Linked DNA regions of Homo sapiens: all the other regions are reported to be linked to region 3. The links are microRNA targets in miRTarBase. Many come from high-throughput screens and were not tested one by one. Region 3 holds a microRNA gene; each other region holds the end of a gene's coding sequence. Distances are between the middles of the regions.

Evidence for each region. The annotated mature microRNA hsa-miR-624-3p reads CACAAGGUAUUGGUAUUACCU and lies in region 3 at 1,044-1,064, opposite strand. An mRNA with a match to its seed (bases 2 to 7 or 8) in the 3' UTR can be bound and repressed. Matches are read on the target gene's strand: a 7mer-m8 pairs with bases 2 to 8, a 7mer-A1 pairs with bases 2 to 7 and ends in A, and an 8mer does both.
Region 1: miRTarBase lists ZFP36L1 as a target of hsa-miR-624-3p. Seed matches in the 3' UTR shown: 7mer-A1 at 779-785.
Region 2: the mRNA of KRTAP4-9 is a reported target of hsa-miR-624-3p. The part of its 3' UTR that is shown has no 7-base or 8-base seed match.

The regions. Positions count from the first base shown.
Region 1 is chr14:68,785,873-68,789,939 of GRCh38, reverse strand. It overlaps ZFP36L1 (ZFP36 ring finger protein like 1), which reads left to right. Exons shown (of 2, transcript NM_004926.4): 2 at 1-2,278. The coding sequence ends at 407. Among named protein-coding and RNA genes, the nearest start is that of ZFP36L1, 5.2 kb to the left of the region's middle. RefSeq lists enhancers at 63-142, 153-212, 2,645-2,824, 3,114-3,408 and silencers at 3,685-3,734, 3,755-3,824.
Region 2 is chr17:41,105,660-41,109,726 of GRCh38, forward strand. It overlaps KRTAP4-9 (keratin associated protein 4-9), which reads left to right. Exons shown (of 1, transcript NM_001146041.1): 1 at 1-829. The coding sequence ends at 362. LOC124904002 (a long non-coding RNA gene) reads left to right here and starts at 2,573. Exons shown (of 2, transcript XR_007065754.1): 1 at 2,573-2,720.
Region 3 is chr14:31,013,626-31,017,692 of GRCh38, forward strand. It overlaps MIR624 (microRNA 624), which reads right to left and starts at 1,117; the gene lies at 1,021-1,117. All of the region lies in intron 1 of STRN3 (striatin 3), which reads right to left.

The DNA.
Region 1 (4,067 bases), 38 Mb from region 3:
TTGCTGGGTTTCCCAGTGCCGCTGCCACCGCCGCTGCCACCGGGCTGCTGGACAGCCCCACGTCCATCACCCCACCCCCTATTCTGAGCGCCGATGACCTCCTGGGCTCACCTACCCTGCCCGATGGCACCAATAACCCTTTTGCCTTCTCCAGCCAGGAGCTGGCAAGCCTCTTTGCCCCTAGCATGGGGCTGCCCGGGGGTGGCTCCCCGACCACCTTCCTCTTCCGGCCCATGTCCGAGTCCCCTCACATGTTTGACTCTCCCCCCAGCCCTCAGGATTCTCTCTCGGACCAGGAGGGCTACCTGAGCAGCTCCAGCAGCAGCCACAGTGGCTCAGACTCCCCGACCTTGGACAACTCAAGACGCCTGCCCATCTTCAGCAGACTTTCCATCTCAGATGACTAAGCCAGGGTAGGGAGGGACCTCCTGCCTACTCCAGCCCCTACCCTGCACCCACATCCCATACCCTCTTCTCCCTACCCATCCCATTCCCCACAGGCCCTACATTAACAAGGTTAAGCTCAACCCCTTTCCCCCAGCACCTCAGAATGTGCCCTCCCTCTCCCCCTCATAACCCCACCTAACATAAGGACAAGTCAATTTGTCAGTAGCTTCTTCTGGCTTGAAACCCCCTCCCTGGATTTTATAGCCCACTTACCATGCATAACAGACAAGTCCCATATTTTGTCAGTAGATGCCTTTTTTTTTCCGGCTTAAGCCTTAAGTGCCAAATCACAAGAGAAAAAGCAGTAACAGTTTACAGAAGCAACTTAGTGCCTTGTAATCTAACTTTGTCACTGTGACTACATTACCTCTTCAGCGCCAGAGGGCACCCGTGGGCCTCCCGGAGCCTCTGCCCATGGCGGGGTGGAGACCCGGAACCAGCAGCCCCCTCCACTGGCGACACAACTGCACCTTCCCTCATTTCAGTCTCCCGCACACTTATTCCTCCTCCCCTCTTCCCGGTGGCACCTCTCCACCTGTACCCGCCCCCCCACCCCCCCCACCCCTGCCCCTTGGAAGAGTTGTTGCCAGACCAGGGTTTTGGGGGAAACCTGTCTTGACATTCAAAACCTTTTTCTTCCCGATCTGAACCCCTGTTGACTAATCTTGCCTGGGTTTGTGTAGGTCTGCAGGAAGGAAGGCTGAAAAAGCGGACGAAGATTTTGACTTAAGTGGGACTTTGTGATTTAATTTTTTCTTTTTTTTAAGTGGGGAGGAAGGGGAAGCTAGATGGACTAGGAGAGACTTGATTTTGGTGCTAAAGTTCCCCAGTTCATATGTGACATCTTTTTAAAAAAAATAACAACAAAAAAAAAATGAGAGAAAAGCTAAAAAAAAAAAAGTAAGGGGTGAGCAGTTAATGGTATTCATTCCACATACAATATCTGTGTAAAACGATTTCCTGTAGAAGTAGCTTTAATGGTTTTTGCTCTAGAATACCGTAGGTCTATCCTTAGAGCACTCACGCCATGCTTTCTTCCCTGGGTTTTAAACTTCATATAACTTTCAGAAATTGGAGAGCAAAAATTTTGCTTGTCACTGCACATCAATATAAAAAAGCTTATTTAACTTATCAAAACGTATTTATTGCCAAACTATGCTTTTTTTTGTTAATTTTGTTCATATTTATCGGGATGACAAATCCATAGAATATATTCTTTTATGTTAAATTATGATCTTCATATTAATCTTAAAATTTTGTGACGTGTCTTTTTCCTTTTTTTCCACAGTTTTAATATATTATTCTTCAACGACATTTTTTGTAACTTTACACTTTTTTGGTTATTTTATTTTAAAAAAATGAAAAATTAATTTAAAAAAATGCAAAAAACTGTTGGATTATTTATTTTAGAAATTCCCCCCTTTGTGTTGGACTGCAAATTGAGTTTCTTTCTCTTTAGGCCTTTCACAACTAGGACTGAGAATGTATGTAAAAGTTCTGTGACAGTACAGAAGGAAAACAACTTTTTATGTATAGCTTCTAAAAGGGGAAAAAAAAAAAAAGAGAAACCCTTTGACTTCCACGTGCCCATCTCAAGACATTCCACTCACAGATTTGAGGTTCTGGATTCCAGGTCTGGAGTTTTCCAATGTTAATGTAAACAGAACTGGCACACACACATTAAGATGAATGTAATTATTATTCCTCTTGCTGGTCACTACCGTCGCTTTCTATTTCTCTTTCTTTGTGTGAATTTATTTAAAAGAAAAAAAAACTTTTTGTAACGACTATTTGCAGTTTAAAAATCAATAAACCCCGTTTTTTCAAGAAACATTGATGGTGGAGCTGGTTTTACTTGGTTTTGGTTTGACTTTGCCAGTAAGGTTCTCCCCTTGTATACCTTGCAAGTCCTGGGTAGGGGGAGGCGGAGAGAGAGGGCTGTGGCTGTGGGTGGCGGCATCTCTCATCCCTATAAGCTAAGCCTATAGCTCCCTTCCTTGATGCTGGCAGTTTGCTGCGCTTAGAGGGGACGGGGTGGAGGTTTTCTGCAAAGGAGCCTGTACTTCCTGCTGTATTACTTCTGAAAAGACTGTGCAGTGTGTTAGTTGTTGGCTGAATAGCAGCGGGCCCAGCCTTGCCGACACTTGTGTGGCCTCTGCGGTTCTTCTGGGGAGCCAAGGCTCAGGGCCTTCCAGTCCGCCCCGTCCAGCCTGTGCTCTTCATTCCTTTGGATGGTGTTTGGGGTGCCAAAATGATAAAAGAGGACCTAGCACTTGGCACACTTGCAGGCTTGGATTTGAGTGAGTTCTTTTATTGGGGTGCCTTGGGCTCATTTTGCCCATAAGAAAGAAATTTACCTCAGTACTGGCCTCTCAACACCTACCCGTGTGGGGAGGGTATAAGGAAGCACTGCCTGCTTGGAGAGGAATGTCCAGCGGGGTGAGGGGCTCAGTCACAAGGAACTGGGAACTGGGACTGGATTTGACATAGCCTTTTGGGTTTGGAGGGCTGTTAAGGGGAAGTGAGTGTTAACACTGGCCAACACAACACAGCAAGTCACCAAGGGTTCCCACCACCTTAGTTACAATCTCAGGTGCTATGCAAAATTAGGTATGTCGTCATCTTGGGAAAGGTGGGGTCTCCTTGGCTAGATGCACCCCCACCAAGGCTAGATGACCACTTAAGAGGTGGCATTTCACCCGCCGGAGGAGTTGGAACTTTCACAAATCTTGAGTGTGAGCCTTGGGAGGATTTATTTGGGGAGAGGCAGAGATTGCTATTTGCAGCTCACTTGCCTTTGGTTCCTTTACACCCAGGAAGTTTTGGGAGTTCAGCTGAGTCACCATGATTCCACCAGGCCTCTTCCGAAGGTCTGCAGCAGACATTGGGCAGGCCAGGGATGTCCCTGAGACTCGAAGACCTACCTCTACTCTCAACTCATTTCCCTGGTCATCAGATATCTACTGGGGGTCAGGGGGTGAGGTAGAAAAATAGGGACTATTACCTGTTCCAGGGCAGGGGCTGGTGGTTTAGGAAGGGGAAAAGCAGCCCTTCTTAGGACTGGAGTAAACCTAGGCCTCTTGTCCCTTAAGGAGGAAATGAACTTTGTGTGTGTGTGGAGGTGGTGGTGGTGGTGGTTGGTGGTGGCATGTGATCTTCCTTTCGGAGTAAAAGCAAAAAAGACATTTAATCATTCACCTTGAGCTCATTCCCTGCAGGCATACCTGAGCATGTGGCAGACACCTTTCTAACTTCCCCTCTCATGGTGACGCTGGTTAGGTTCCTAGAGGCCCAGGCGTACCTCCTGGCCAGCCCTGAATTTCCTCTAGAGGAGACAGTCCTTTGACTGAGTCAGTCCTTTGACTTTGTCTAACCAAGATAGAGACATTGACTACTGGAGGCCCTGGAGGGTGGGGGTTGGCTGTAAAGCCCAGGGGAGACTCCTTATCATGTGGGGAAGCTCCATGTCCCCGGGTCTTAACCCTTTACCTCTACCTAAGTGTCTCCCTGGGGAACTCACTCAGGCTGGGATTTAGGTAACCCAGGCCCATGTGTGGTGGCCACAAGAGCCTGGTTGTGTCCCATTGAGTCCTTAAAGTTAGAGGAGATGGCCCTTGGGA
Region 2 (4,067 bases), not on the chromosome of region 3:
GGCCCCAGTGCTGCCAGCCTGCGTGCTGCCAACCCACTTGCTGTCGCCCCAGCTGCTGTGAGACGACCTGCTGCCACCCTAGGTGCTGCATCTCCAGCTGCTGTCGCCCCAGCTGCTGTGTGTCCAGCTGCTGCAAGCCCCAGTGCTGCCAGTCTGTGTGCTGCCAGCCCAACTGCTGCCGCCCCAGCTGCAGCATCTCCAGCTGCTGCCGCCCCTCTTGCTGTGAATCCAGCTGCTGCCGCCCCTGCTGCTGCGTGCGTCCAGTCTGTGGCCGAGTCTCCTGCCACACCACTTGCTATCGCCCAACCTGTGTCATCTCCAGCTGCCCCCGCCCCTTGTGCTGTGCCTCCTCTTGCTGCTGAGCCCACTGCCCTGGCTTATCTCCCCCTTCACCACTGGCCCACAGATGTAGACCCTTCTACTGTGCTGACCATTAGGATACAGGAAGTGGGGTTGATGTCATTCAATAGAATGGAACTCATGTTTCCAATGAGCCCATCACCATTTCACTGACTCTTTGAGAACATTCTGATTCATTTTAAACTCCCTCCCTTGCTTTCTTTTTCTTCCGGTGGTGGCACCAAATGTGAATTAATTTGTAATCCACTAGCTAGAAATTATTCCAATCCTCTAATTTCCTCATTTTCTTTATCACTTTGAGGTACAGATCTTCTTCTCAGTGAGGCAGACATTATCTGCAGGACCAGTTTTGTCACTGAGGTTGCACCCTCAGATCCAGCCGCCCAGTTATATTCTGTGTTTCTCCTAGTGTGAATTTCTTATGCTTTGTTGCATCTCTGCTTTTTAATAAAATTTCTGTACATAAGAATTCATTGGTATCATTCTCTATTGCTTTCATAATTATTTTACTGATTCCCTGACAATTATATTTTACACAAAGACGCAGGAAAAGCAACCCGTGTTGAAATCACTTTGAAAATACATGCTATATCGAATATAGATAATTTACGGTATTGGAATAGAAGTGCTGTGTGTATATGTGTGTGTATGTGTGTGTGTGTGTGTGCACATGTGTCTTAATATCCTAAATTAAGACAGTTTTAATTCATACCTTAGCTCTTGAAACACATTTTATCTTTAACACATTATATCTCATAATACTATCGTCCCTGTTTTGACAAAAAAGATAAAACCAAATTTCTGAAAATTAGACACCAATGAAAGAAGGGAAATCTTCTATAAAGAATTTCATGTACTGAATTCATTTTACTCAATAACAACATTTTGGAATTTATAATCAAAAAGTGGGCTTTATTTCCCAGTGAGTTCTGCTGAGACAAAAAAGCATATTGAGCTGTAGTTCATCTGGATAGCATGGTATATTGCTGACTGTGGTCTCTACGGGTTTACATTATAATTTAAACAACTCCACACTTAACATTTTAATATATATAAACCCAGAAAGGATGAAAATTTCAAGGCTCGCTTTTCTTTTTAAGAATTATTTTATTGGAATTAGTTCAGTCTTGAGTAGGTCGCAGCTGGGGTGCATATCCTAATTAGAATTTCCAAGAGAGGTGCCTTCATTTGAATCTGAAAGAATATGGTAAGTGACTATAACTTGGCATTCTAGTAGGAGCACCTGCTCTTGATGTTTTTACTTTTATTTGACTATTATCAGCTCTGAAATGGCCTTAAGCTATTGAGCCAATCAAGTTTAAGATGATTTGTTCAGATATGTTCAAATATGAAAAATAAGCTTCATATTTTTTCAGATGCCTTAAGAAAAATGTTGTCCAGATCTCAGTCATAGAGTTATGATGCCTTCTTAAACATGAGGCAGGATAAATAAGGTTAGGAGGCTGTGAAAGTAAAATAAATATTGGGGCCCCCAAATCACTAAGCTAAAGGGAAAAGGCAAACTCGGAACTGCTTAGGACAAACTTGCCTCTCATTCTATTCAAAGTCACCCCTCTGCTCACTGAGATAAATGCACTGATTGCCTCCTTGGGAAAGGCTAATCAGAAACTCAAAAGAAGGCAACCATTTGTCTCTTATATACCTATGATCTGGAAGCCCCCTCCCAGCTTCGAGTTGTCCCGCCTTTGCTTCGAGTTGTCTTGCCTTTTCTGGACCAAATCCGTGTTCATCTTACATATGTTGATTGATATCTCATGTCTCCCTAAAATGTATAAAACAAAAGTGTTATCTGACCACCTTACACACATGTCATCAGGACTTCCTGAGGCTGTGTCACCGGAGCATCCTCAACCTTAGCAAAATAAACTTTCTCAATTAACTGAGACCTGTCTCAGATTTTCTGGGTTAACATTTTGGTAACTGTGAAAGGATTCTGAGTGGAGATGCCCTTGACCTTTGACGAATATCCTGTTGGTGCCTGGTAATAGCATGAGCTAACTTTATGGCTCAAATCAATAGGACAATTTGCTGAGGTCTGGGAGCACCCTCCCCAAAGAATCCCTGATCTCCCCAAATTTGGTGAAGAACTAAAGTTCATTTTGCTGTACAACTGCCCCACCTATTTTTGTTTTTGGAGTTTTACTTGCTTACTTGCCTTCCTTATAAGGAAGGCAAGATTTACTTTTACTTCCTTTACAAGGAAGGCAAGATTTCCTGCTTCCATGATGATGAAAGGCATGTAGAGTTTGAGCTCACTCCCAGCAGGGAAGACCAGTTTGAGTTTTTTTCCTGCTTCTAGGGTGGTAGAAAGCAGCCTTCAGCCTGAGACCCATCCCTAGGTAAGTAGCTGAACTGGGGCTTTGTCTGGGCTAAAGTTTAACAACCAGCTAGCTGCTCTTAATTTCTCCTTATCATTAGAGTGCTTGGTAATCCTATGGTTGGAGATTTTGTTGTTTGTTTTGGTCTTTCTCCCATCAGACTTGACCAACTCTACCTGACTTGGTCAAATCCAAGTGAGAATTCAAAATTACGGGTAACAAAACCTCTCTAATTTGGCTAAAATTCATTGCAGCTGCAAAAGAAGAAAACAAACAAAAAGAACCAAAAACCCATGCACTTGGTTTCTGTGTTTGCTTCCTGTCTTAAAACACGAATGTTCTTTCGTTTACTTTTCTTGCACCATATACCTCCTCCCCCTTTGCCATATGCAGTACCAAAAAGTCTAGAGAAGGCTTCTAATGACTTGAACCCCCTTAAAGAATTCAGAACAAAGGTTGCCACTCACCCCTTTTGGGGTGTTTTGTTTTCTTTGTGGAGTTTCAAGAGTCATGGGTAGATTCTTCTTAACTCTAAACCTCTATTTTCCTGTATTGCATGACCTGACCTCTTTGGCTTTGACCTTGTTGTGTATAGTGGTAGATGAGAGCTACAAAGTTAAGGGGTGGCTGAGCAAGGTTTACAAAAAGTGGTCTTGGCTGTTGTTTTGTTTTCCTTCTAGGAATTTGTCGTTTAAAGATCCTAATTCTAGTTCACAAATGCATTCTAAAGGATCTTCTCTGTTGCTTTTTCTCCCCAAATTAAGCTCAATTCAGCTTGTCTGTGTGCATTTGCATGAGGAACTGAACTGTTGTTTTCAGTGGTGACCCACTGTGGAGTCCTGCCCACAAATGGCACATATTGATCCACCACAGAAAACCTCTAGGCCTCAGCTCAGTTCCTCTTTTTAAGAAGAAAACTGGGAAACAAATAATCTAAGAATGAGGAGAAAGCAAAGAGAATGATTCCCTTTCAAGCACTCCATAGGTTTTATGGCACCTGTACTTGCCAGAGTTTAAGTAAAATGGAAGTAATATGGTCTTTGTGCATATTTACATTAAGAAAGAAAGGGCCCATGTAAATTAGTTCAACCATTGTGGAAGACAGTATGGTGATTCCTCAAGGATCTAGAATCAGAAATACCATTTGATCCAGCAATCCCATTACTTGTTATATACCCAAAGGAATACAAATCATTCTACTATAAAGACACAGGCACATGTATGTTTATTGCAGCACTATTTACAAGAGCAAAGACATGGAACTAACCCAAACGCCCATCAATTATAGACTTGATAAAGAAAATGTGGTACATATACACCATGGAATACGATGCAGCCATAAAACGGAGTGAGATCATGTCCTTTGTA
Region 3 (4,067 bases):
AGTCTTTTACCAGGCTGAAGAGCAGTGGTGTGATGATAGCTCATTACAACTTCAAACTCCTGGGCTCAAGCAATCCTCTCCCCTGAGCCTCCAAAGCTAGGAATACAGGTGCATGTCACTATGTCTGGCTAAATTTTTTCTTTTCTGTAGAAACGGGGGGGGTCTCACTATGTTGCCCAGGCTGGTCTCGAACTCCTGGCCTCAACCAATCTTCCTGCCTTGGCTTCTCAAAGCAATTTTATTATTATTATTATTATTATTATTATTATTATTATTATTATTATTATTATTATTTGAGACAGAGTGTCAGTCTATTGACCAGACTAGAGTGCAGTGGTGAGATCATGGCTCACAGCAGCCTTGACCCCTTGGGCTCAAGCGATCCTCCCGTCCCGGTTTCCCGAGTAGCTAGGACTACAGGTACAACACCATTGTGTCCAGCTAATTTTTTAAATTTCTTGTAGAGACAGGGTATCACTTTGTTGCCCAGATTGGTCTTGAATTTCTGACTTCAAGTTATCCTCCTGCCTTGGTCTCCCAAAGTGCTGGGATTATAGGAAGGAGCCTGTAAGTGTCCTGAAAGTGCAAAAATTGTTGTTGTTGTTGCTGTTCTGAGACAGAGTCTTGCTCTGTTGCCCAAGCTGGAGTGCAGTGACGTGATCTCGGCCCACTGCAACCTCCGCCTCCCGGGTTCAAGTGATTCTCCTGCCTCAGCCTCCCGAGTAGCTGGAACTACAGGCGCGTTGACACCACACCCTGCTAATTTTTGTATTTTTAGTAAAGACGGGGTTTCACCATGTGGGTCAGGCTGTTCTCGAACTCCTAATCTTGTGATCCACCTGCCTCAGCCTCCAAAAGTGCTGGGATTACAGGCGTGAGCCACTGCGCCCGGCCAAAGTGCAAAATTTTTAATAGGAATTTTTACGTCTGTTTATAAAGTCTATCTAAAAGTAGTCCAAAATTTTACTTTACATTTATAATTGCTTTAATTCTAGTCTTTTAAATCTTGTTCACTGAAACCACTTAGGTGTAATGCTATCTCAAGGTAATACCAATACCTTGTGTTTACCTTGGTTCCACTGAACACAAGGTACTGGTACTACCTTGAAACAGCATTATATATTGGTCAAAAGCACATCCTTTTTTAACCTTTTTTTCTTTTTCATTACAAGAACACAAAACCACTTTAAAAAAAAAAAAAAAAACAGGGTCTCACTCTGTTGCCCAGGCTGCAGTCTGTCACCCAGGCTAAAGTACAATGGTGCAATCTTTGCTCACTACAACCTACACCTCCCAGGTTCAAGCGATTCTCCTGCCTCAGCCTCCCAAGTAGGTGGGATTACAGGCATGCGCCACCATGCCCGGCTAATTTTTGTATTTTTTTCTAGAGACAGGATTTCACCATGTTGGCCAGACTGGTCTCAAACTCCTGACCTCAAGTGATCCGCCCGCCTTGGCCTCCCAAAGTGCTGGGACTACAAGCGTGAGCGCCACCGCGTCCAGCCTCACACCCACTTTTATTTATTTACTTTTCATTAGTTTCCTTGAAGGGTATTCTGTGTCCAGTAGCCTTACCAGGAAGGCTGCTTCAGAATTTGACACAAACCATGCCACTGGTTTCCACAGGTATGAGTTGCGTTTCCCCAATTACTATAGTTTTGTTCCGTTTGCCTATGTTATTCTTTGCTTTATACACATAAGCACAACTCTTAAATAGAATTCAGTTTCATCTTGGGCTTAAACACTTTCAATTTTTTTTTTTTTTTGAGACGGAGTTTCATTCATCACCTAGGCTGGAGTACAATGGCACGATCTAGGCTCACTGCAACCTCTGCCTCCCAGGTACAAGCAATTCTCCTGTCTCAGCCTCCTGAGTAGCTGAACTACAGGCATGCACCATCACACCGAGCTAATTTTTTGTATTTTTAGTAGAGACAGGGTTTCACCATGCTGGCCAGGCTGGTCTCGAACTCCTGACCTCAGGTGATCCACCCGCCTTGGCCTCCCAAAGTGCTGGGATTACAGGCATGAGCCACCGTGCCCCCAGCCAACACCTTCAATTTTAAGAAGAGCTGTATGCTCCTTTTGGCTCTGCAGACCTTACTTATAGCCAGGCCTTGGAAAGCAGCTGCCAAGACATTTACTTTTAGAAGTTCAGTTCTGTTCCCAGCAGGCCTCTACAGAACCTTGTGAGACAGGGACTCACTCTGTCACCCAGGCCGGAGTGCAGTGGGGTGATCATGGATCACCGTAGCCACAACCTCTGGGGCTCAAGCAATCCTCCATCTCACTCCTCCACCAGGTAGCTGGGACTTCAGGCACATGCTACCATGCCTGGCTTCAATACTGTTTTTCATTAGGGGAATGTAAATTAAAAACAGTGAGATACCACTGCATAACTACCAAAATGGTTAAAATCCAAATCACTACAACTCCAAAAGCTGAAAGGGGAGCAATAATAATTCTCACTCATTACTGGTGGGAATGCAAAATGGTACAGCCACTTTGGAAGATCATGTGGCAGTTTCTTACATAATTAAATATAATCTTACCATATGATCCAACAATCACACTCCCTGGTATTTACTCAAATTACATGAAAACTTATACGTCCACACAAAAACCTGCACATGGATGTTTACAGCCTTTACTCATAATTGTCAAAACTTGAAAGTAACCAAGATACCCTCCAAAAGGTGAACAAACTGTAGCACATCCATAAATGGAATATTGTTCAGCACTAAAAAGAAATAATCAACCCATAGAAAAGACAAGGAGAAGCCTTAAATACACTGCTACTAAGTGAAAAGGCTACATATTATACGATTCAAACTAAGGCAACCCTCTGTATCCAAGGGTTCCCCATTCACAGATTCAAACAATGGCAAGGCAAAAATATTCCAGAAAAATAATAAAAATATATATATATATATTTTGAGACAGAGTCTCGCTCTGTCGCCCAGGCTAGAGTGCAGTGGCGCGATCTCGACTCACTACAACCTCCGCCTCCCGGGTTAAAGCGATTCTCCTGCCCTCAGCTTCCCAAGTAGCTGGGATTACAGGCACGTGCCAGCACACCTGGCTAACTTTTATATTTTTAGTAGAAACGGCGTTTCACCATATTGGCCAGGCTGGTCTCAAACTCCTGACCTTGTGATCCACCCGCTTTGGCCTCCCAAAGTGCTGGGATTACAGTCATGAGCCACTGCGCCCAGCCAAAAAATAATTTTTAAAAATTATAGCAACTAGCCAGGTGCAGTAGCTGACACCTGTAATCCTAGCACTTTGGGAGGCCAAGGATGGCAGATAGCTTGAGCCCAGAAGCTCAAAACCAGCCTCAGCAACTTAGCAAAACTCTGTCTCTAGAAAAAATACAAAAATTAGCCAGGTGTGGTGGCGGGTGCCTGTAGTCCTAGCTACTCAGGAGGCTGAGGTGGGAGGATCACCTGAACCCAGAGATCAAGGCTGCAGTGAGCAGTGATTGTTTTACTGCACTCCAGCCTGGGTGACAGACTGAGACCCTGTCTCAAATAAAAAGTTTTAAAAAGTGTAACAACTATTTACATAGCATTTAGATTATATAAGTAATCTAGGCCGGGCGCAGTGGCTCACGCCTGTAATCCCAGCACTTTGGGAGGCCAAGGCAGGCAAATCACAAGGTCAGGAGATCGAGACCATCCTGGCTAACAAGGTGAAACCCCGTCTCTACTAAAAATACAAAAAATTAGCCGGGCGTGGTGGCGGGTGCCTGTAGTCCCACCTACTAGGGAGGCTGAGGCAGGAGAATGGCGTGAACCCAGGAGGCAGAGCTTGCAGTGAGCCGAGATCGCGCCACTGCACTCCACCCTGGGCGACGCAGCGAGACTCCGTCTCAAAAAAAAAAAAAAAGTAATCTAGAGATTTAAAATATACAGGAAGATGTGCATAAGTTACAAACTCATTGTATTGAGGGACTTGAGCATCTGAGGATTTTGTATCCTGGAGGAGAACCCCTGGAACAAATTTCCCCCAAGGATACCATGGGAAGGTATATGAATGTATTCTGGAAAAGGCAAAACTTTGGGGTA